Linked DNA regions of Homo sapiens. The protein of the gene in region 1 purifies or fractionates together with the protein of each later gene. This does not show direct contact. Each region holds a gene or a part of one and is shown in the gene's direction. Other genes may lie near its edges.

Region 1 (7,099 bases):
ATATTTTGTGGTGATAACTGCTCACACTGAGTGAAAGACTTTTCTGCTATAGGACAGAGGTGGGACAGCACATTTCACCTGGGGGGATGGTGGGGAAGGGCATCAGAGAAGCCTTCTCTGAGAGGTGCCATGTGATGGAAAAGTTCACCAAGAAAGCCGGGGAGAAGGGCATTCCAGGGACAAGGAACGGCATGTGCAAATTCCTAGAGGCCAAAAGGAGCATGGTGGCTTTACACACGTTCTGGCATGAGCTTGAGAAGAGGGCAACTGAGAGACGGGGTTTGGTAAGGTGGGCATGGGGCACTTGGGAAGGGATCTGAATATTGTATTGGGAAGTCCGGCCTTGATTCTTTCACAGATGGGGCTCCATGGGAGTAGCATGGAGAGGAGAAACACAGTTGGGTTATGTATGAAATGATATTTCTGGTGGCTAAATGGAAGATGGAGGGGAGCAGCAGGGAAGCGGGGATGAGAATGGAGTCAGGGTGTCCAGTTAAGAGGCAATTGCAGGCCAGGCTTGGTGGCTCATGCCTGTAATCCCAGCATTTTGGGAAGCCAAGGCAGGTGGATCACCTGAGGTCAGGAGTTCAAGACCAGCCTTGCCAACACGGTAAAACCCCATCTCTACTAAAAATACAAAAAATTAGCTGGGCGTGGTGGCAAGCAACTGTAATCCCAGCTACTCGGGAGGCTGAAGCAGGAGAATCACTTAAACCTGGAGGTTGCAGTGACCTGAGACTGCGTCATTGCACTCCAGCCTGGGCTACAAGAGCAAAACTCTGTTTAAAAAAAAAAAAAAAAAAAGGCAATTGCAGACTGAGTGTGGTGGCTCGTGCCTGTAATCAGCATTTTGGGAGGCTGAGGTGGGTGGAGTGCTTGAGCTCAGGAGTTCAAGATGATAGTGTTATAGGTCAGGGAAGTGGTAATCATTTTCCCCGTCCACTTGAGTGGATGGGAAAGATGATTAAGAAATCAAAGCAGGCAGGGCGCCGTAGCTCATGCCTGTAATCCCAGCACTTTGGGAGGTCAAGGTGGGCGGATCACTTGAAGTAAGGAGTTCAAGACCATCCTGGCTAACACGGTGAAACCCCGTCTCTACTGAAAAGACAAAAAATTTAGCCGGGCGTGGTGGCGGGCGCCTTTAGTCTCAGCTACTCGGGAGGCTGAGGCAGGAGAATGGCGTGAACCCGGGAGGTGGAGCTTGCAGTGAGCTGAGATCGCACCACTGCACTCCAGTCTGGGTGACAGAGTGAGACTCCATCTCAAAAAAAAAAAAAAAGAAGTCAAAGTAGTAGAAACTGCTGATAGACTGAATGTGGGGGGTTAGGGAGATGGAGGAAGCTGAGTGACTCCCAGGTTTCTTGCATGGGGGACTGACTGGATATAAAATTAGTTGTGGGCCGGGCACGGTGGCTCATGCCTTTAATCCCAGCACTTTGGGAGGCCAAAGCGGGCAGATCACTTGAGCTCAGGAGTTCAAGACCAGCCTGGGAAACATGGTGAGACCCCTTCTGTACTAAAATTACAAAAGAAAATAGCTGGGTGTGGTGGCATGTGCCTGGGGTCCCAGCTATTCGAGAGGCTGAGGTGGGAGGATCGCTTGAGCCCAGGGGACAGAGGTTGCAGTGAGCAGTGATTGCACCACTATACTCCAGCCTGGGTGACAGAGCAAGACCCTGTCTCAAAAAAAGACAGATGTGGCACTGAGCAAACCCAGGACTCTTGTCCAGAGCTGAGAAGGGCTGCTAGCCCCAGTGACAGAGAAAGGCCCTCTGACTGGAGGACACAGCCATCTCTAGGGTCCTGGCTCTTTGTCCTTTAACAGTCCTGTGTGCCGAGGTGGCAGACCTGCATCTCCAACACGGATGACGCCCTTGGCTTTGCTTTGGGGTCCCTCTTCGTGAAGGCCACGTTTGACCGGCAAAGCAAAGAAATTGTGAGTCTACAAGATTCTTTCAACACTATGCCCTCAAAATTGACTGTTCATGTATGTGCAGACATATAGAAAAACAACGGGAGCCAGGCGCGGTGGCTCACGCCGGTAATCCCAGCACTTTGGGAGGCCAAGGCGGGTGAATCATGGGGTCAGGAGTTCGAGACCAGCCTGGCCAACATGGTGAAACCTGGTCTCTACTAAAAATACAAAAAATTAGCCGGGCGTGGTGGCGGGTGTCTGTAATCCCAGCTACTTGGGAGGCTGAGGCAGGAGAATCACTTGAACCCAGGAGGCGGAGGTTGCAGTGAGCCGAGATCGCGCCAGTGCACTCCAGCCTGGGCGACAGAGCAAAACTCTGTCTCAAAAAAAAAAAAAAAAAAAAAAGAAAAGAAAAGAAAAACAACTGGATGTAAATTGATGAACAAATGAAGTAGTGCTGCTTTGGGCAGTGGGATTATAAGAGTCCTTTAAAGTTGTCTATGTGTTTATGTTTAACTATATAACTAGAAGAAATATTTATTTATTAGGATATGATAATGGATGTGCTTAAAGTATTACCTGTAAGGATGTTTATGGTTTTTATGGCAATGTTGTTTATAATAGCAGAAAATGAGAACAGGTTAAATGTCCAACTATAGGGTAAAGGAAAAATAAATTGTGGTTAGGATGGGTTGTGAGGATCCTTAAATGGCTGATATATCTTTCAGCAAAAAAAGTAGGTTACAAAAAATATATACCCTATACAACATAATTCCATATTTTATATGCATATCAGGGGAGGGAAAAACTCTAGAAGTGGGTAATCAAAATGTTAAAAGAACTTATCTATGAATGAGTGCTTTATAACTGGTCTGTTCTTCAATTCTCAATTTTCCAAATTTTCTGTGAATGTCCTCTTTTCATAATCAGATAAAAATCATTGCACTAGGCTGGGCGTGGTGGTTCACGCTTGTAATCCCAGCACTTTGGGAGGCTGAGGCGGGTGGATCACGTGGTCAGGAGTTCAAGACCAACCTGGCCAAGATGGTGAAACCCCAGCTCTACTAAAAATACAAAAATTACCCGGGCATGATGGCGGGAGCCTGTAATCCTAGCTACTTGGGAGGCTGAGGCAGGAGAATCGCTTGAACTCGGGAGGCGGAGGTTGCAGTGAGCCGAGATTGCGCCACTGCACTCCATCCTAGGTAACACAGCCAGACTCTGTCTCAAAAAAAAAAAAAAATCATTGCACTATATTAAATTATAATATAATTTGATGAACTTATTGTCAATTAAAATGTGTACTTAATTAAGAAAAAAGCCAGCCACAATCCCAGTACCTTTACAAATGGTGTTTCCTTCTCATCGTCTCCAGGTGCTCAGCCGTATTTCTTTAGTCTAGACGTTCCCATTTCCCCTGGGTGGACAGGGATGGGGCACCAAGGGTGGATGGGTGGGGCAGGGATGCATTCAGTGCAGGGGAAGGCTGACTTTACCTCCTCCCTCCCAGGCAGAGGGGATGATCAGCGAAATCCGGACCGCATTTGAGGAGGCCCTGGGACAGCTGGTTTGGATGGATGAGAAGACCCGCCAGGCAGCCAAGGAGAAAGTGAGCGGTGGCTAGGGTTGGGGCGCCATCTTGAGGTGGGGTTCAAGGATACAGTTTTGCTAGGAACCTGGGGAAGGAAACAAACCCTTAACCTGGTCTCTTCAGGCAGATGCCATCTATGATATGATTGGTTTCCCAGACTTTATCCTGGAGCCCAAAGAGCTGGATGATGTTTATGACGGGGTGAGTACCTACGCTCATCAGTACTGAACTTCAGCCCTGTAGAGGGCACTGTTCCCTGGGCTTAGAAATTGGGGCTCAAGCACTGGGAAAGAGGTGCTTGTCGGTTTCTTTTAGAGGCAGATGGAGGTAACCAGCATTGTTAAAATGTTGGCTCTGTGACAGGCTGCAGGCCAAACAGCAGTGAAATATAGTGCTAACGAGCCAAGATTTGGAGTCAAGCCTAATCAAATTCTGTTTCTACCTCTAACTTTGTAACCTTAACAAAATCTCTCTAGGCCTTGGTTTCATTTTCTGTAAAATGGGGGTCCTACTAGTGCCTTCCTCATAGGGTTGTTGTGAGATAAATGAATACAGTATGTAAAAAAACAGCACCCATAACATAAATGGCCTTTAAATATTGCCAATTATGGTTTACTAGATATTTTACAGTTGAGGAAACTGAGGTTTGGAGAGATACTAATGAGTAGCCAAACTGGCGCTATTATCTTCTCCAATGGATTCTCTTGCTCTCTTTCTACTTCCCACCTTTCCCACAGTACGAAATTTCTGAAGATTCTTTCTTCCAAAACATGTTGAATTTGTACAACTTCTCTGCCAAGGTTATGGCTGACCAGCTCCGCAAGCCTCCCAGCCGAGACCAGTGAGAATGACGGGGTGGACATAGACACTAGGGGTGGCAGGAGAGGTGGGGGAAGGTTCCTGGGATGGGGGAAAAGGGTGGCAAGACTGGTCCCAGACCGGCGGCCCCATACCCTTGCAGGAGGTAGGGCAGGGCTGTTGGGAGGGGAGCAGTGTCAGGAGAGTCGGGAGCCTCAGCCCCTCACTCTTCCTCCGCCAGGTGGAGCATGACCCCCCAGACAGTGAATGCCTACTACCTTCCAACTAAGAATGAGATCGTCTTCCCCGCTGGCATCCTGCAGGCCCCCTTCTATGCCCGCAACCACCCCAAGTGTGTCTGAAGCAGGAGGGGCTGGGTGCTGGGGCCTGGGCCTGTGGTTGAGCTGGGAGCAGGGCTGGAGGTGGGATTCAGAAGTACCCCCGCCATGTCCTCACTTGCTATTCCTCACCCACCAGGGCCCTGAACTTCGGTGGCATCGGTGTGGTCATGGGCCATGAGTTGACGCATGCCTTTGATGACCAAGGTAGGGGCCCATGGAGTCGTCCCCTCTAGCCTAGAATTCCCAGTGGCTCCTGCAAGGCCTTGGGACATTGATGTAGCCCCAAGGGCCCTGAAGTCTGTGGACCAGGGCTGGTGGGGGCACTGCTGCCCCCAAGAGACGAGCTCTGGTTTTGGTGGGGTGCAAAGGTGAGTTCTCCTCAGGGCGCGAGTATGACAAAGAAGGGAACCTGCGGCCCTGGTGGCAGAATGAGTCCCTGGCAGCCTTCCGGAACCACACGGCCTGCATGGAGGAACAGTACAATCAATACCAGGTCAATGGGGAGAGGCTCAACGGCCGCCAGACGCTGGGGGAGAACATTGCTGACAACGGGGGGCTGAAGGCTGCCTACAATGTGAGTGGCCTGACCAGCCCTCCAGCGGCTGAGGCCTGCTGGCCTGGGGTGAAAGGTGCCGGGTGGGTGGGGGCAGGCCTGGATGGGCTTGTTGCCCACTGTTCTGTCCCCAGGCTTACAAAGCATGGCTGAGAAAGCATGGGGAGGAGCAGCAACTGCCAGCCGTGGGGCTCACCAACCACCAGCTCTTCTTCGTGGGATTTGCCCAGGTATCACCCTCTCGGAAGGCCTGGGGTCTGCCCCTTTGTCCTGCTCCCTCCTGAGTATGTCATTAGGAGAACTCTGGGGCACGTGTCAAACGGGCTGGTGAATGGGGCTGAGGCTGGGGCATGAAAGGTGGGCTGGGAAGGCCCATGCCCAGAGCCTCCGGCCAGCCAGGGCCCACAAAGGCAGCCTGAAGAGGCCTGAGCGGGAGAATGCCTTGGTAGGATTTCGCATAGTTCAAAGGGCAAGGTTGTCGTGCTTGCGGGGCACAGGGTGGCGAAGGGGGCAAACGTTCATCCTCACGCTGTTCCTGTGAGGGAGACATGCAGGAAACGAAAGCTCGGGACGCAGAGTGGCCTGTCCAGGGCTGCCCAGGAATAGAGTAAGTGGCAGAGCAAGGACCCAGGCAGAGCCTCCGCTGGGCAGCCACAGCAGGCAGCTTCTGGGGCTCCGCTTTTTCCCCTCGTCATGTCCATGCTGGGCAACCCGATGTCCAGGGCAGTTTTGGAAGGAACTTGGGAGGGGCTGCAGCGGTGGTGGTTTGTGCCCCTGGGATGGCTGTAGCTGACTCTAAGGCCCGGCTCCACACTAGACACCATATGCCCCCATGTCTGTCCTGGCCCGCAGGTGTGGTGCTCGGTCCGCACACCAGAGAGCTCTCACGAGGGGCTGGTGACCGACCCCCACAGCCCTGCCCGCTTCCGCGTGCTGGGCACTCTCTCCAACTCCCGTGACTTCCTGCGGCACTTCGGCTGCCCTGTCGGCTCCCCCATGAACCCAGGGCAGCTGTGTGAGGTGTGGTAGACCTGGATCAGGGGAGAAATGGCCAGCTGTCACCAGACCTGGGGCAGCTCTCCTGACAAAGCTGTTTGCTCTTGGGTTGGGAGGAAGCAAATGCAAGCTGGGCTGGGTCTAGTCCCTCCCCCCCACAGGTGACATGAGTACAGACCCTCCTCAATCACCACATTGTGCCTCTGCTTTGGGGGTGCCCCTGCCTCCAGCAGAGCCCCCACCATTCACTGTGACATCTTTCCGTGTCACCCTGCCTGGAAGAGGTCTGGGTGGGGAGGCCAGTTCCCATAGGAAGGAGTCTGCCTCTTCTGTCCCCAGGCTCACTCAGCCTGGCGGCCATGGGGCCTGCCGTGCCTGCCCCACTGTGACCCACAGGCCTGGGTGGTGTACCTCCTGGACTTCTCCCCAGGCTCACTCAGTGCGCACTTAGGGGTGGACTCAGCTCTGTCTGGCTCACCCTCACGGGCTACCCCCACCTCACCCTGTGCTCCTTGTGCCACTGCTCCCAGTGCTGCTGCTGACCTTCACTGACAGCTCCTAGTGGAAGCCCAAGGGCCTCTGAAAGCCTCCTGCTGCCCACTGTTTCCCTGGGCTGAGAGGGGAAGTGCATATGTGTAGCGGGTACTGGTTCCTGTGTCTTAGGGCACAAGCCTTAGCAAATGATTGATTCTCCCTGGACAAAGCAGGAAAGCAGATAGAGCAGGGAAAAGGAAGAACAGAGTTTATTTTTACAGAAAAGAGGGTGGGAGGGTGTGGTCTTGGCCCTTATAGGACCCTGTGCCAATAAACAGACATGCATCCGTCAGCCTGTCTCTCTTCCTTCAGTCCTGTTTTCATGTATCCATTCACTCATTCCACCAGCGTCTATAGAGCAACTACTGTAT
Region 2 (7,000 bases), on another chromosome or scaffold:
GATCATGAAACAAATCAGTGAGAACCAGCATTCCTTGACAGTAGTGATTTTTGCCTGAAGTCTTTTTACATTCACTTTTTTGAGAGTCGTGGATATCCCCCTTATTATCGTTTAGAGTATTGTTTCTCCCAGCAAAACAAAACTATTGGTGAGAATTCTTTGAAATGAGGACAGTAGTTTCTTGCTGGTATTACTGTAAGTCAAAACCTAATTTGCCATTGCCACAGAATTTTTAGAAATTGTGTATATCCAGCTATATCTAAGTCTAAACACAGTGGATTGTTTTGTTTTTTTTTTGTGATGGAGTCTCGTTCTTGTCATCCAGGCTGGAGTGCAGTGGCGCAATCTCAGCCCACTGCAACCGCCACCTCCTGGGTTCAAGCGATTCTCCTTCCTCAGCCTCCCAAGTAGCTGGGATTGCAGGCGCTCGCCACCACACCTGGCTAAGTTTTGTATTTTTTTTTTTTTTTTTTTAGCAGAGATGGGATTTTGCCATGTTGGCCAGGCTGGTTTCAAACTCCTGACCTCAGGTCATCTGCCTGCCTTGGCCTCCAGAATTGCTGGGATTACAGATGTGAGCCACCATGCCTGGCTGTGGATCATTTTCCTTTTAAAGTAGCCATGCCTTAGTCTGCTTTTCAAGAATGATCCTGTTCTTTGGTGAATTCCAAGAGCAAATGCAAACTCTTGATTTGACATTTTGGTTATAGTAAATATTGTTGAATGAGGTTTAGAATTTGTTTTATAAAACTTTTATTATGGAATTTAACTTGTAAAGTTAAAGGGAAATTAACCTTAGCCTCCTATTTGGAGTTGGAATTAGCATTTGAATGTTTTTATATTTTACATGTATGCGTATTAACAGCTTTTGTTGATTGGGTGATTCTTATCCCTATATTAACAAAGTTTTGGAATATATGTGTCAGTAAAGAACATAGATGTGCTATTTTGGAAATCTTTTTTATGATGATATTAGCTTCTTACTCTCTATTGAAGCATAGATATCTATTTTAGATTTTGTCATCTTCAGGGAAATTCTTAGGATCATTGTTTAAGGTTCTCATTGTTTTCTCAAGATTTGGTTCACCGATGCTTTTATAATTTACATTGAAACTGATAAAAACCCATTATGTTTGGTTTGTTATTAATCATTAACTAAATATGTACATAGACATATATTATTCTATACAGAGTAAATAATTTCATTCTTTTTTACTGCTACATTGAAAATAATGTTCTGGATTTTCTCTTGCCTCTGTTTTTTTTTTTTTGTTTTTTGAGATGGAGTCTCGCTCTGTCGCCCAGGCTGGAGTGCAGTGGCGCGATCTTGGCTCACTGCAACCTCTGCCTCCCAGATTCAAGCAATTCTCCTGCCTCAGCCTCCCGAGTAGCTGGGACTACAGGGGCGCGCCCCCACGCCCTGCTAATTTTTTGTATTTTTCTTAGAGACAGGGTCTCACCATGTTAGCCAGGATGGTCTCGATATCCTGACCTTGTGATCCTCCCGCCTCAGCCTCCCAAAGTGCTGGGATTACAGGCGTGAGTCACCACGCCCGGCCTAGAAACATGACTTGTAATGAAAAATTAAGTTCTTCAAAACTCGAGTTTGACACATGCATGTTGTAAATTGGTATTTTCTTTTTATATATACTTCAGATCAACAGAGGAGGATATTTTTGCCACCACCACCTGGAATTAGAAAATGTGTCATATCCACCAATATTTCTGCAACGTCTTTGACAATAGATGGAATCAGGTAAAACTTTTGAACTTTCTCTTAAAGTCAAGGAAGCCTATCGTTACTAAACATTAGCTAAACATTACTGAGTTTGCTTTTCTGTGCCCTCCACTAATTCCCTTCTCTCCTACTTTTTGATGTTCTTAACATGTAATCACCTATTTTGTTTTGTAATTATTGATTGCTTTGAGCAGGAAATGGAGTAGGAGGTACATACTATATTCCTATTCACACTTTTTGTTTTTTTAGAGACAGGGTCTCATTATGTTGCTGAGGCTGGAATATAGTGACTATTCACAGGCGTGCAGTCATAGCACACTACAGCCTTGTATGGAGATCAGCCAATCCTCCCGCCTCAGTCTCCTGGGTAGCTGGGACCACAGGCATGTGTCACCGTACTTGGCTGTTCACACTTTTTAACTACTTGGCAACTTGAAGCTTCTTTTCAAATTTAAGATTATGTATAATGCTTTATGGGTTTCACTAAATAGGAAGCCAAACCTATTTTTCTGTACTCCCATTATAAGCATATACCTTAGATGATTTGATATTTCCTTCTACCTTGCAGCCTCACTCGGTAGAGTTAGTTTGTATATCCAGTGTTTATCTGGATGTATTGTCTCTGACTTTTTACCTTTTTGTGAAAATTAACTATGATTCAGGTCCCTTATCTTTTCTGGATGTAGTAAATAGTGCTATCAAATTTTTGGGTAAATTTAGTAAGGAAACACTAAGAAATTTTAAGTCTGGACTGACAACTAATGCAAAGTTCTTTAAGACTGGGTTATTTATCATTTACCGAATATATTTTATTTCTTTAGCTAAGTCTGATTGTCTGTCTCCGGAAGGCTGAACCTGAATCTCAAAGATCCTGTGTGTTTCTTCTGGGTAAAATGATCACCCAGGTCTGAGAGGAAGTCTAATTTCCTCTGCTTTTCTTCGTTACTTTAAAAATAATGGTTTCACTAAGGGATTAAGGGAGTGCTCTCCTGGGTAAATTAACCTCTGTAATTTTCTGTTTCCTGCACAGGCAAAAGCCATTAAATAGCATGTTTCAGAATGTTGTCTTGTTACTGCTATCCTACTTTGGTTCCTTACCTGACTTGTTCACCATTTAATTGGCTTAGAATGGCATGTTAAGGGCTAGTTGAAATTAGATTCTGAATCTGTTTAAATGGTCTGAAGCTGACTTTCAAGTTTGTGTATTTTTGTATTGAGGCAAAATTCACATAAAATTAATCATTTAAAATGAAAAATTAAGTAGTACTTAGTACATTTACAGTATTGCGCAACCACTGCTTCTGCTTAGTTCTAAAATATTTCAACACCTCAAAATAAAACCCCATACCCATTAAGCAGGTACTCCACATTCCCCTCTTGACCCCAGCCCTTGGCAACTACCAGTCTTACTTTTTGTTTGTACGTATTTTCTTTTTTAAAAAATTCTTTAGATGTGTCAGCAGGAAGCAGTAGGTATTTTCTATTCTGGATATTTCATACAAATAGAATCATATAATATGTGGCCTTCTGTGTTTGCTTTCTTTCACTTAGCATAATATTTTTGAGGTTCGTCCACATTGTAGCATGTATCAGTACTTCATTCTTTTTTGTGGCTGAATAATATTGCATAGTGTGTGTGTGTATATATATATATATATATTCCATTGTGTGTGTATATATGCGTGTGTATATATACTACATACATATATGCAAAGCAATTTGTTCATCCCTTCTTCCATTAATGGTTAATGGACATTTAGGTTGTTTTTACCTTATGGCTGTGATTCATAGTGCTGATATGAACATTGGTCTATAAGTATTTGTTTGAGTACTTGTTCTCAGTTCTTTTTGGTGTACACTTAGAAATGGAATTGCTGGATCATATGGTAATTTTGTGTTTAACTTCTTGAGGACCTCCGAACAATTTTCCACCTCGGCTGAACCATTTTACATTCCCACCAACAACATACGAGGGTTCCAATTTCTTGACTTTCAAGTTTTACACTTAACATAAAAGGCATTGTGTACCTGCTAGTTTGCTAGAAAAGGAGAAACCAAAGTGGTTAACAATTAACAAGTCTTCTTTTATTTTCCAGAAACTTAACTTGCTTTGATTCTTCTTAGATATGTGGTAGATGGTGGCTTCGTGAAGCAGTTAAATCACAACCCCAGATTAGGGTTGGACATCCTGGAGGTGGTTCCAATTTCAAAGTAAGTCTCTATGTCAAATCTTTTTATTCAAAGAACAACTGATTAGGTAATTTCTAGCTGTTTTGGGGAGACAAAGTAAATTACCTGAGAAACCCACAGAACATTTTGGGGAATTTTTGGGTTTTTTTCCTTTTGTAGGAGCGAGGCATTACAGCGAAGTGGCCGAGCTGGCAGGACTTCTTCAGGAAAATGCTTTCGGATCTATAGTAAAGATTTTTGGAACCAGTGTATGCCTGACCATGTGATCCCTGAAATTAAGAGAACTAGTTTGACATCTGTAGTTCTGACCTTAAAGTGCCTTGCCATACACGATGTCATAAGGTATGTAGACAACTAGAAAAAAAAGGAAAAACTTGTTAGCCTGGAACCAAGTTATTGGCTCAAAAATTATTTTGAAATATTTGACTGATACATCCCTGAGAGTTGAGGCTAACCTCTTTTACAGGTTGGTTTTTATATTGGTTGCTTTTCTTTTCTTTTTTTTTTTTTTTTTTTTTTTTTGAGATGGAGTCTTGTTCCGTTGCCCAGGCTGGAGAGCAGTGGCACGATCACGGCTCACTGCAACCTCCGCCTCCCGGGTTCAAGCAATTCTCCTGTCTCAGCCTCCCGAGTAGCTGGGACTACAGGTACCTGCCACCATGCCCAGCTAATTTTTGTATTTTTAGTAGAGATGGAGTTTCACCTTGTTGGTCAGGCTGGTCTCGAACTCCTGACCTCAGGCGATCCACCCACCTCGGCCTCCCAAAATGCTGGGATTACAGGTGTGAGCCACTGTGCCTGGCTCTATTGGTTGCTTTTCAACTAAACTAACACAGAAGACTTCCTTGCATTGCTTTAGTAGGATCTCTTGCTCATGTTTAACCTTGGCTTAATGGCGGGGTTAGGGGGTTGTGCTGATGTTTATGTGGATCACTTAGTGACCACTGTTTATTTGTAATGAAAGGTATATAATGAGCTGGGCATAACAGCTTATGCCTGTAATCTCAGCACTTTGGATGGCCAAGGTGGGAGGGTTGCTTGAGCCTAGGATTTCGAGACAAGCCTGGGCAACATAGTGAGACCTTGTCTCTACAATTAAAAAAAAAAAAAAGTCTGATATGGTGCATGCTTGAGTCCCAGATATTTGGAGGCTGAGACGGGAAGATTGCTGGAGCCGGGCAGGTAGAGGCTGCAGTGAGCCATGATTGCACCACTGCGGTCCAGCCTGGGCAACAGAGTGAGACCCTGTTTCAAAAGAAGGGGGCTGGGCGTGGTGGCTCACGTCTGTAATCCTAGCACTTTGGGAGGCCAAAGTGGGCGGATCCCTTGAGGCCAGGAGTTTGAGACCCGCCTGGCCATCCTGGCAAAACCCCGTAGCTACTGAAAATATAAAAATTAGCTGAGCTTGGTGGCACGTGATTGTAGTCCCAGCTACTCCGGAGGCTGAAGCACGAGAATCACTTGAACCCAGGAGGCAGAGACTGCAACGTGCCAAGATCACACCACTGCACTCCAGCCTGGTCAACAGAGCGAGATTCTGTCTCAAAAAAAACAAAACAAAACAAAAGGGTATACAGTTGGAAAGTGGAGTGTTTTTTTTGTATGGCCAGCATCATACTATATACCATGAAAGACAGAGTAATACTCTGTAGTTTTTTGCTTTCACTAAGCTTAAGTTATATTAGGAAAACAAGGTTCAGACACGTGAAATAAAGGAAGAACAGTTAAATTAGCCAAATATTAATATAATTTATTGGTATAAGATAGAATATTGTTATAGATAGAAATTTCTATCATACATGGTAGGGGAATTAATGGAGGAAAGTACTATCTTCTTTATTTTGGTCTTAATTGCCTTGGAATGTAAAACTGCTCAGGAATTTTGGGGGATGGTAACCGTGCAGTTTTTAAATTCATAGTAAGTGATTATTAGGTGCATCCAAATATGTATTGTAGGCCGGGTGCGGTGGCTCACGCCTGTAATCCCAGCACTTTGGGAGGCCGAGACGGGTGGATCACCTGAGGTCAACCTGGCCAACATGGTGTAACCCTGTCTCTATTAAAAATACAAAATTAGCCAGGATGGTGGTGCTCGTCTGTGATCCCAGCTACTTGAAAGCCTGAGGCAGGAGAATTACTTGAACCCGGGAGGCAGAGGTTGCAGTGAGCCGAGATTGCGCCATCGCACTCCAGCCTGGGCAACAAGAGCGAAACTCTGTCTCCAAAAAAAAAAAAAAACCAAAAAAAGCAAAAAAAAACCCCAAAACCCACAAATACTCATTGTATACTCTTGGAAAGCCAATTTGCCAATTTCAAAATGTTTTGATAGTTATCATTAGATTAGAGATTTTCTGAATGAGAATATGTAGATACTGGAAAGAGAAAAGCATGTAATAAATGAAATTCTGACTGTAGCAATAAATTATACCAATGAAAAGAAGGAAAGCGCCATTTAAAGAAATCCAAAGAGCCCAATAGAAAACTTTCAGATGAACCCAGATATTAAAATAATGTCTTGATTTTTTTCATTTGGGGAAAAAGGGCCATTTTTGGAAATAGCTGCTCAGTAAGTTTGACATTGACTCTTAGTATATTCACAAAGGATAGCAGAGCAGCCTCTAACCAAGAATGAGTATATATTAGAAAAATAGGAACAATAATTAATATCATCTGCATTGAATTATTTTTCCATCTTAAGTCTTAAAAGCCATAGTGTACTAAAAATCGCAAAATTATGTTTCAAAATGCTTGAAACAAAAAACAAAGACTTCCTTTTTAAAAAGTTGTATAAAGAATAAGGAGAGGTAGAGCCAGTGTTTGGGGTAGATGGTATAGGATTCATAGACGACAGAAAGAAAATGGATCTTCTCAATTATTATTTTGCTTTCCCTTTCTTTTCCATCAGGAAGAATAATTTTAAAGCTGAAAATGCAAGAACAGGTCTGAATAAGAAGGAATTGATGACTAAGGTGGAAGGAAATAATGAGGGAAAACCTACCACCATAAGTGATTTTGTCTTGAGCATTTAGACATTATTTCCGTGGTGTTAAAAGAACTTGCAGATTTAGCGTC
Region 3 (7,000 bases), on another chromosome or scaffold:
TGGGATCCCGGAATGTGGCTGCCAACCCCAACACCTGGAAACCCCTCCCCATCCCGCCCCCTCAGCTTGGGGCACCCATAGCCAACTCTGTACCACCTGTGGGTGATCTTTGGTAGAACTAATCCCACTTTGGGTTGACAGCAGGTTACGTAGGCTACTAGTTTGCATCAACCCAAGGAGTGGAGATAGATAATCCATGGGGAAAGAATGATATTTGAGCCCCATTTTCAGTCACCTCATCAAGCCCTCAGCGTCTTACTTGTATTACATTTGTTATGAATTCACATGAGCAGCACTCATGCTAGAATGTAAACCCAGAAACCTACTCCAGAGCCAAATGATTTGCAGGGGTGAGAAGGACACAGAGAGGAGAGGCTGAATCTCAGCACCCCACTCTCAAGGCGGCATGAGTCACCTGTGCAGGAAGCCCTCGTCTCCATCCACTGATCTTGGAACTGCAGAGGGAACTCACTTTTCCATGAGAAGAGTCAGAAGACCACTCTGGGGGGCCATAGCGTTCCACAGAGCAAACTGACCCCAGTGTGGACTCTCAGTCTCTCTGGCAGAGTTCTTTAAAACACACCAGCCATAAAACAAGTTAAACGTTTTTTGTTTTTGTTTTTGTTTTTTTCTTACTAGGTCATGTTCACGGAGGAGGATGTCAAGTTCTACCTGGCTGAGCTGGCCTTGGCTTTAGACCATCTCCACAGCCTGGGGATCATCTACAGAGATCTGAAGCCTGAGAAGTAAGTGAGAAAAAACTAGGGCTGACTTCCCCACGCCCATCAGCTCCATGTATTTTCCTGGCCCATGTTGGTAGCCACTGCTAGATATTTATTTCCTAAATGAGGACATATCAGAGAGCAGGCTGGGGAGACTCTTGTGCCGGCAGGACCGGCTCAGGCATCAGGTGCCCAGATGCAGGTGTGGCCTTGCTGATTTGCATAGGAAATGCCCAGGCCCATTCTCACCTGACACTCATAACGCCTGAGGGAGGCCAGGCTCAGGTGCATGTCTGTGATGCACGGGAAGCCGGAGCTGGGGAGGGGCACGCCCACGACCCTGACCCACATTCCCGCCCTCTCTCCTGGGTGAGGCTCATCTGGCCACTGGGGACCATCTCAAACATGGCTGCCTCCAGGGCAGTTTCTCCTCCTCTCTCATCTCTTCCCTACTGTCCTCCAGATTCAGGAAGCCCTTTCATCTACTTCAGCAAGTCCCAGGAATGTGGTCAATGAACCTCTACTCAGTTACTTGTCAGCCCCACCTCTAGGTCCCCAGTCAGAACAGCTCTCCCAAGAACTTACCTAAAAGACAACGGCCCCAGAATTCTCAGACCCAGAGTCCACTGAGATTTGTATATCCTTGGCAGTGGTGACCTGTGAGGCTATTATTTCTACGATATTTTGCTAATCTATTCTAGATTTTTGAACAGTAAAGTCCCTCCAAAATAATAGTGTTCCCATTTTCATTTTGTTGTTGTTGTTTTTACATATTCTTTGTAGACCTGACACATAACTAGGAGTGATCCACTTAGAAAAGAAGAGATTTGGAGGATGGTATTTTAGGTTGAGTTGACCTCAGCAGTATCCCTGAGGTGATCACTCACTCTTCCCTGCCCTGAGGGGCCGATTAATGCCACCCACCCAGACCAGGGCCCATAGCCGCCCCTAGATGAGGCATCACCTGTGGCCTGGTGGGACCGACCGGCCTTGGGTACCACCAGAGAGCCCCGTGCCTGTGAGCTAAGACCAAGGGGGGGCCCTGGGGTCTGCAAACGCGTCCCAGTTGCTACTCCACATTCCTGCCCTGTCACCTGCATGGAACTGAGAAAAGACAAGCCCTGCTCCGAAGCTGGTGTTGTTAGATGCAGCTGTCATCTATGGGAAACAGCTGGGTTTACCCAGAAACCAGGTCACATCCCATATCCACTGCAGGATGCAAAATGCATTTGCCCATGTGCTTGATGATCTGACTTCACCACCAGTCCGTGGAACGCCACAGGCACACATGTGAGTTGAATACGTGTGTAAATACAGCTGGAGCATCCCTCATCCGAATCTGAAATGCTCCAAAATCCAAAACTTTTTGAGCCCCAATGGGACACCCCCCAGTGGAAAATTCCACACATAAGCACTTAACACAAACGTGGTTTCATACACAAAATTATTTAAAATATTCTATAAATTAGCTCCAGGTGATGTGTAGAAGGTATATATGAAACATAAATGAATTTTGTTTCATTTCAGACTTGTGGCCCATCTCCAAGATATCTCATTATATATAAGTAAATATTGCAAAATCCCCAAATCCTAAACACTTCCGGTTTCAGGCATTTCAGATAAGGGATGCTCAACGTAGAATCAAAAAAGACTTTATCCAGAGTAATCCCATGAAGAGAGCAGCCTCCGCAGCTGCTGTCTCCCCACAAGAGCAGCAGCACAAGGCCAGATTTCCATTTCAAAGTGGGTCTGACCTAGAACCCCGTGGTGCTCTGAGCCCTGGGAGTCCCCTTTCGCCTCTCCTTAATTGGGAGGTGATTGCAGAGCCTGGCCTGTCACCTTGGGTCGTTGCCAAGGTCATCCCAGAAGTTAACCTGGTATTAATTACCCTCCAAGTCGGAGTGCCGTGTTGTGAGTCTGTGTGGACGTTGCCACTCCTCCTCCTCGTGCGGCCCTGGCTGTTGACGCCTGTGTGTTAGACACACTCCCCGTGCATCCACTCAGGCCGGGAGTGCCGGTTCTCATTGCTCCTGAAGGTCAGCGTGATCCTTACAGCTAAAAATAGCCTTATTTAATTGCAAGCTTGAAGGAAAAGGTTGTGTTGTTCAACTAGAATTATTAGAGAATTAATCTTGAAAGGTGCTTAATTCTGGGCAAAGATTGAATATGCCCAAAAGGCAAAGATGAAAAGATTTGCCTTGTTCATTATAAATTGTCATCTTAATTACATGCTGTAACTTTTCCTTCCCATTTCCAGAAAATAGTGGTTATTTTTTTAACTCTGTGGCAGATTTTTTTTAATTGTAGAAAAATACACATGACTTTTACAGTTTTCACCACGTTTAAGTGCCCAGTTCAGTGGCATTAAGCACGTTCCCATTGCTGGGCCCCCATCCCCACCGTCCATCTCCAGAACTGTTTCATCTTGCAGAACTAAAGCTCTGTCCCCCTGCACAGTAGCTCCCCAGCCCCCGGCACCCGCCATCCACTTTCCATCTCTGTGACTCTGGCCCCTCTAGGGACCATACATTTTATATTTGTAAAATCATATAATACCTGTCGTTTGGGGACGGGCTTATTTAATCGAGCATAATGTCCTCCGGGCTCCTCTGTGCTGTAGCAAGTCAGGCTTTCCTTCCTTTCACAGGTTTCTATAAAGGTATCACAGATTAATCCTCCAAGCCTTGCCTTTGTTTCTTTCCAGCCCACTTCCTGGTCTCTTTAGGGCTAGGCTGGTACCTCCCAGCATCTGGAAGAACAGGATTTAATTACAGCCAAATAAATAAATGGGGAAAGTTTAGGGCCACAGGTGTGTCAAGGTATCACAGCCCAGACTCCCGCCTGATGTTCAGGGAAGAAGGGATTTATGCCTGCACCCAGCCCTTTACGGACCCTGCCTCCATTCTCTATGCAGGGTTCACCCCACGGCAGGATACCTGGGAGGAGCAAAGGCAACTGTCACGTCCGGCACATGGCGTGACAAGGGCTTGGCAGGGAACAAGACAGGGACCCAGTGGCCCGCAGGGGTGCCAAGCCGGGAGCAGGTCTCATCACAAGATGTACCTGCTGAAGCCCGAAGCTCCTCGATGCCTTGGCCCCCGCTTGTGCAGGCCTCACCTGGGTGGGTCTGGAGAGCCAGGGCAGGGCTCAGGGGAGGATACATGGGAGAAGAAGGGGGTCTTTGGACATCAAGGGCATCCCGAGTGCAGAAACATTCCATCTGCGAGGCTCTGGGTCTCCACAGGCCACAGCAGTCCCAGGACGCTCTCCACCTATGCTTTGCGCACAGCAGTCTGGAGGGCTCTTAGACCTTCCCTGGGGACCCACGAATATCTAAAGCCAGCAGTCCTCCAGCTGCACGAACACACATCCCTTTATCCAGGAGGTGTGGCACCAAATGCTTTCTCGAGCTGGGAGCTGTGGAGAAGCGAGGCAGGATGGGAAGGCCCACCGCACAAGCCGTGGGGATCTCCTGGGCCAGCTCCATCAGGGCTCCCTGAAAACGTCCGCCCCCAGCTGCCCCGCAGCTCTCCTCTGAGCTCTGCGTGCCCGTCGGCAGGCTGGGTCTCTTTCTAAAGCATCTGTTTTCTCTCCCTTTCTTTTAGCATCCTCCTGGATGAAGAGGGGCACATTAAGATCACAGGTTTGTAAAAGACGGCAGGCCCCCTCCATGGCTTCATCTCAGCCCTGGTACCTTTGGGGACCACCTCAAAGCCCAAGCCCTCTTATTTACACCGCCCTTCCCTTTGCCAGATGCTTGTCTCTGATTTGGCAGAATTTTCTATAGCTACAGACTGCTTATGGCATTGTATGTCTTCATAACGTCCAGACCCATGCAGCTTCCCGGTGGCCCCTTCTTTTCCCTCTCCCCTGCCACGTTCTGTTTGCTGGGCTCCTTCAGCGTCGCTGGGTGTTTAGTTCAGGAGTCCCAGTGCCCAGTGCTGACCTTAGTGCAGACATCTGGAGTCTTGCTGGAGTGTAGCCTGCAATGTGGGCCTTGCAGATGCCCAGTGCCAACCTGAGGGCAGACATCTGGAGTCTCGCTGGAGTGCGGCCTGCACTGCTGCCCTCACTGATGCTGTCCCTGCCTCCTTCTCACTCCCTGGACCGTGGTGGTGGCCACGTGACTTCCCTCCCTGTTTCCATCTGAGCCCTGGCAGCCACCAGCAAATTCAGTCAAACTGGCAACAGCTCCTCTAGTCTCAGGACACCCCATTTGTATTAGTTCCCTATAGCATCTGCAACAAAATGCCAGGAACATCGGGGCTTTAAACCACACAAACTTATCACCTGACAGGTCAGGAGGCCCCAAGTGTGAAATAAGTCTCCCAGGAATGAAATCAAGGTGTCAGCAGGGCTGCCTGCCTTTTGGGGGCCTCTAGAGGAGACTCCCTTGCTTAGCTTCTTCCAGCTAGTAGAAGCTGCCCGCAGTCCTTGGCTGGGCTGCGTCCCCCATGGTGGAAGCCAGCAGGCAGCATCTTCCAAGCTCTCTGACTGCATCTTGCCTCCCTTCCTAACCTGAAGACCCTTGCAATGGTGTTGGGCACACCCAGAAATCCAGGGTCATCCCCTATCTCCAGATCCTCAATGGCATCTGCAAAGTCCCTGTGTTAGTCTGTTCTGAAAGTCCCTGTATTAGTCTGTTCTGAAAGTCCCTGTATTAGTCTGTTCTCAAAGTCCCTGTATTAGTCTGTTCTCAAAGTCCCTGTATTAGTCTGTTCTGAAAGTCCCTGTATTAGTCTGTTCTCAAAGTCCCCATGTTAGCCTATTCTCACACTGCTAATAAAGACATACCCAAGGCTGGGTAATTCATAAAGGAAAGAGGTTTAATGGACTCACCCTGTTCCACCTGGCTGGGGAGGCCTCACAATCATGGCAGAAGGAGAAGGAGGAGAAAAAGCACGTCTTACATGGCAGCAGGCAAAGAGAGAGCATGTGCAGGAGAACTGCCCTGTATAAAACCATCAGATCTCGTGAGTCTTATTCACTGTCACGAGAATAGCACTGGAAAAACCCACCCCCATGATTCAGTTACCTCCCACTCTGTCCCTCCCACGACACGTGGGGATTCTTACAATTCAAGGTGAGATTTGGATGGGGACTCAGCTAAACCATATCAGTCCCTTCTGCCACATAAGGTGGCCCATTCCCAGGCTCAGGGGCAAGGACATGGCCTCTCTGGGCACTGCTGCTCTACCCACTGGCTGGGCCTGCCTTGGCTCTATTTAGCCACGCTCTGTCATCCCCAAGACTTGGGGGCCCTGAGCCAATGCACTCTTGTTCTTTCCAGCCCCGGGGCCACTTCCTTCAGAAGCCCCTCCTTGCTCTGTGGCACCTGGAGATCCCTGTTCTTCCATCATAGCTCGGCCTCTGCTCCCCAGGCCTCCTCCGCCTGTCTGTGCTCTCCACACCCTCGTGTTGTCGGGGCAGGGCAGGTTCGCCACACTCTGCCTTCCCCTTGGCTCCCCGGCAGCCAGAGCCCCTTTCCCAGTAGCTGTCAGCCACACACCTGCCTTCCACCCCAGGTCCCTCTGCCCTGCAACACCCCACCTCCACGTGCCTGTGGAAAAGGGTCTGGGGGAGTTCCCGTCACTGACTGACAACCTGCTGTCTGGGTGGTGTTCCAAGGCGCTCCTGAGTGTGTACACTCATAAGGAACTCCTCACGCTTTGAGGATTTCGGCTTCAGGCACCGGCGGGCTTCGGGCACTGACGGGCTTCGGGAAGCACTCACATGGTCCCGCTTTTGCTGAGCAGGGCTCTGCTGCGCCCACCTGGAGAGGGGGCAGAGCCCACAGAAGGACGCTGATGCCCGCCTGAGTGTGGACCCCCGAACACACCCAGAGACTGAGGCAGTGTGTGTGCTGTGTTTGCATGTAGATTTCGGCCTGAGTAAGGAGGCCATTGACCACGACAAGAGAGCGTACTCCTTCTGCGGGACGATCGAGTACATGGCGCCCGAGGTGGTGAACCGGCGAGGACACACGCAGAGTGCCGACTGGTGGTCCTTCGGCGTGCTCATGGTGAGCCTGCCCCGACCCTCTTCTGTGCCATGGCGGCTGTTCCCCACGTGGACCCCTGTCCCCAGGTTGGTTCAGAGGTCCCGAAATGCGGAAGAAGGCAGTGCCTGAGGGCTTGGGACACTGGGCAAGTGTCCAGGCCAAGCATTTCCTGGCAGCCTCCTCCCCATCCCACATCCCCACCATCAGAAAGTGGGGCTGGGATGCAAACGAGAACGCAGAAACGCAGACGTGGGAGGAGTCGAACCCTCTTTATGCT

What was found.
Region 2: the proteins of ECE2 (region 1) and DHX40 purify together in Homo sapiens (affinity purification with mass spectrometry; 3 studies listed by BioGRID and IntAct, with this or other methods). This does not show direct contact.
Region 3: the proteins of ECE2 (region 1) and RPS6KA2 purify together in Homo sapiens (affinity purification with mass spectrometry; 2 studies listed by BioGRID and IntAct, with this or other methods). This does not show direct contact.

Annotation. Positions count from the first base shown.
Region 1 is NC_000003.12:184,286,012-184,293,110, forward strand, and holds the end of ECE2 (endothelin-converting enzyme 2), read left to right. Parts: intron 1-1,825; coding exon 1,826-1,936; intron 1,937-3,425; coding exon 3,426-3,524; intron 3,525-3,629; coding exon 3,630-3,707; intron 3,708-4,243; coding exon 4,244-4,347; intron 4,348-4,545; coding exon 4,546-4,656; intron 4,657-4,781; coding exon 4,782-4,849; intron 4,850-5,028; coding exon 5,029-5,219; intron 5,220-5,332; coding exon 5,333-5,428; intron 5,429-6,050; coding exon 6,051-6,227; 3' UTR 6,228-7,020; downstream 7,021-7,099. Other genes in the region: EEF1AKMT4-ECE2 readthrough transcript protein, read left to right, coding at 1,826-1,936, 3,426-3,524, 3,630-3,707, 4,244-4,347, 4,546-4,656, 4,782-4,849, 5,029-5,219, 5,333-5,428 and 1 more. UniProt on the Homo sapiens protein: Converts big endothelin-1 to endothelin-1. Also involved in the processing of various neuroendocrine peptides, including neurotensin, angiotensin I, substance P, proenkephalin-derived peptides, and prodynorphin-derived peptides.
Region 2 is NC_000017.11:59,575,610-59,582,609, forward strand, and holds part of DHX40 (probable ATP-dependent RNA helicase DHX40), read left to right. Parts: intron 1-1,656; coding exon 1,657-1,756; intron 1,757-3,862; coding exon 3,863-3,949; intron 3,950-4,087; coding exon 4,088-4,270; intron 4,271-7,000. UniProt on the Homo sapiens protein: Probable ATP-dependent RNA helicase.
Region 3 is NC_000006.12:166,498,252-166,505,251, reverse strand, and holds part of RPS6KA2 (ribosomal protein S6 kinase alpha-2), read left to right. Parts: intron 1-639; coding exon 640-746; intron 747-4,327; coding exon 4,328-4,365; intron 4,366-6,601; coding exon 6,602-6,744; intron 6,745-7,000. UniProt on the Homo sapiens protein: Serine/threonine-protein kinase that acts downstream of ERK (MAPK1/ERK2 and MAPK3/ERK1) signaling and mediates mitogenic and stress-induced activation of transcription factors, regulates translation, and mediates cellular proliferation, survival, and differentiation.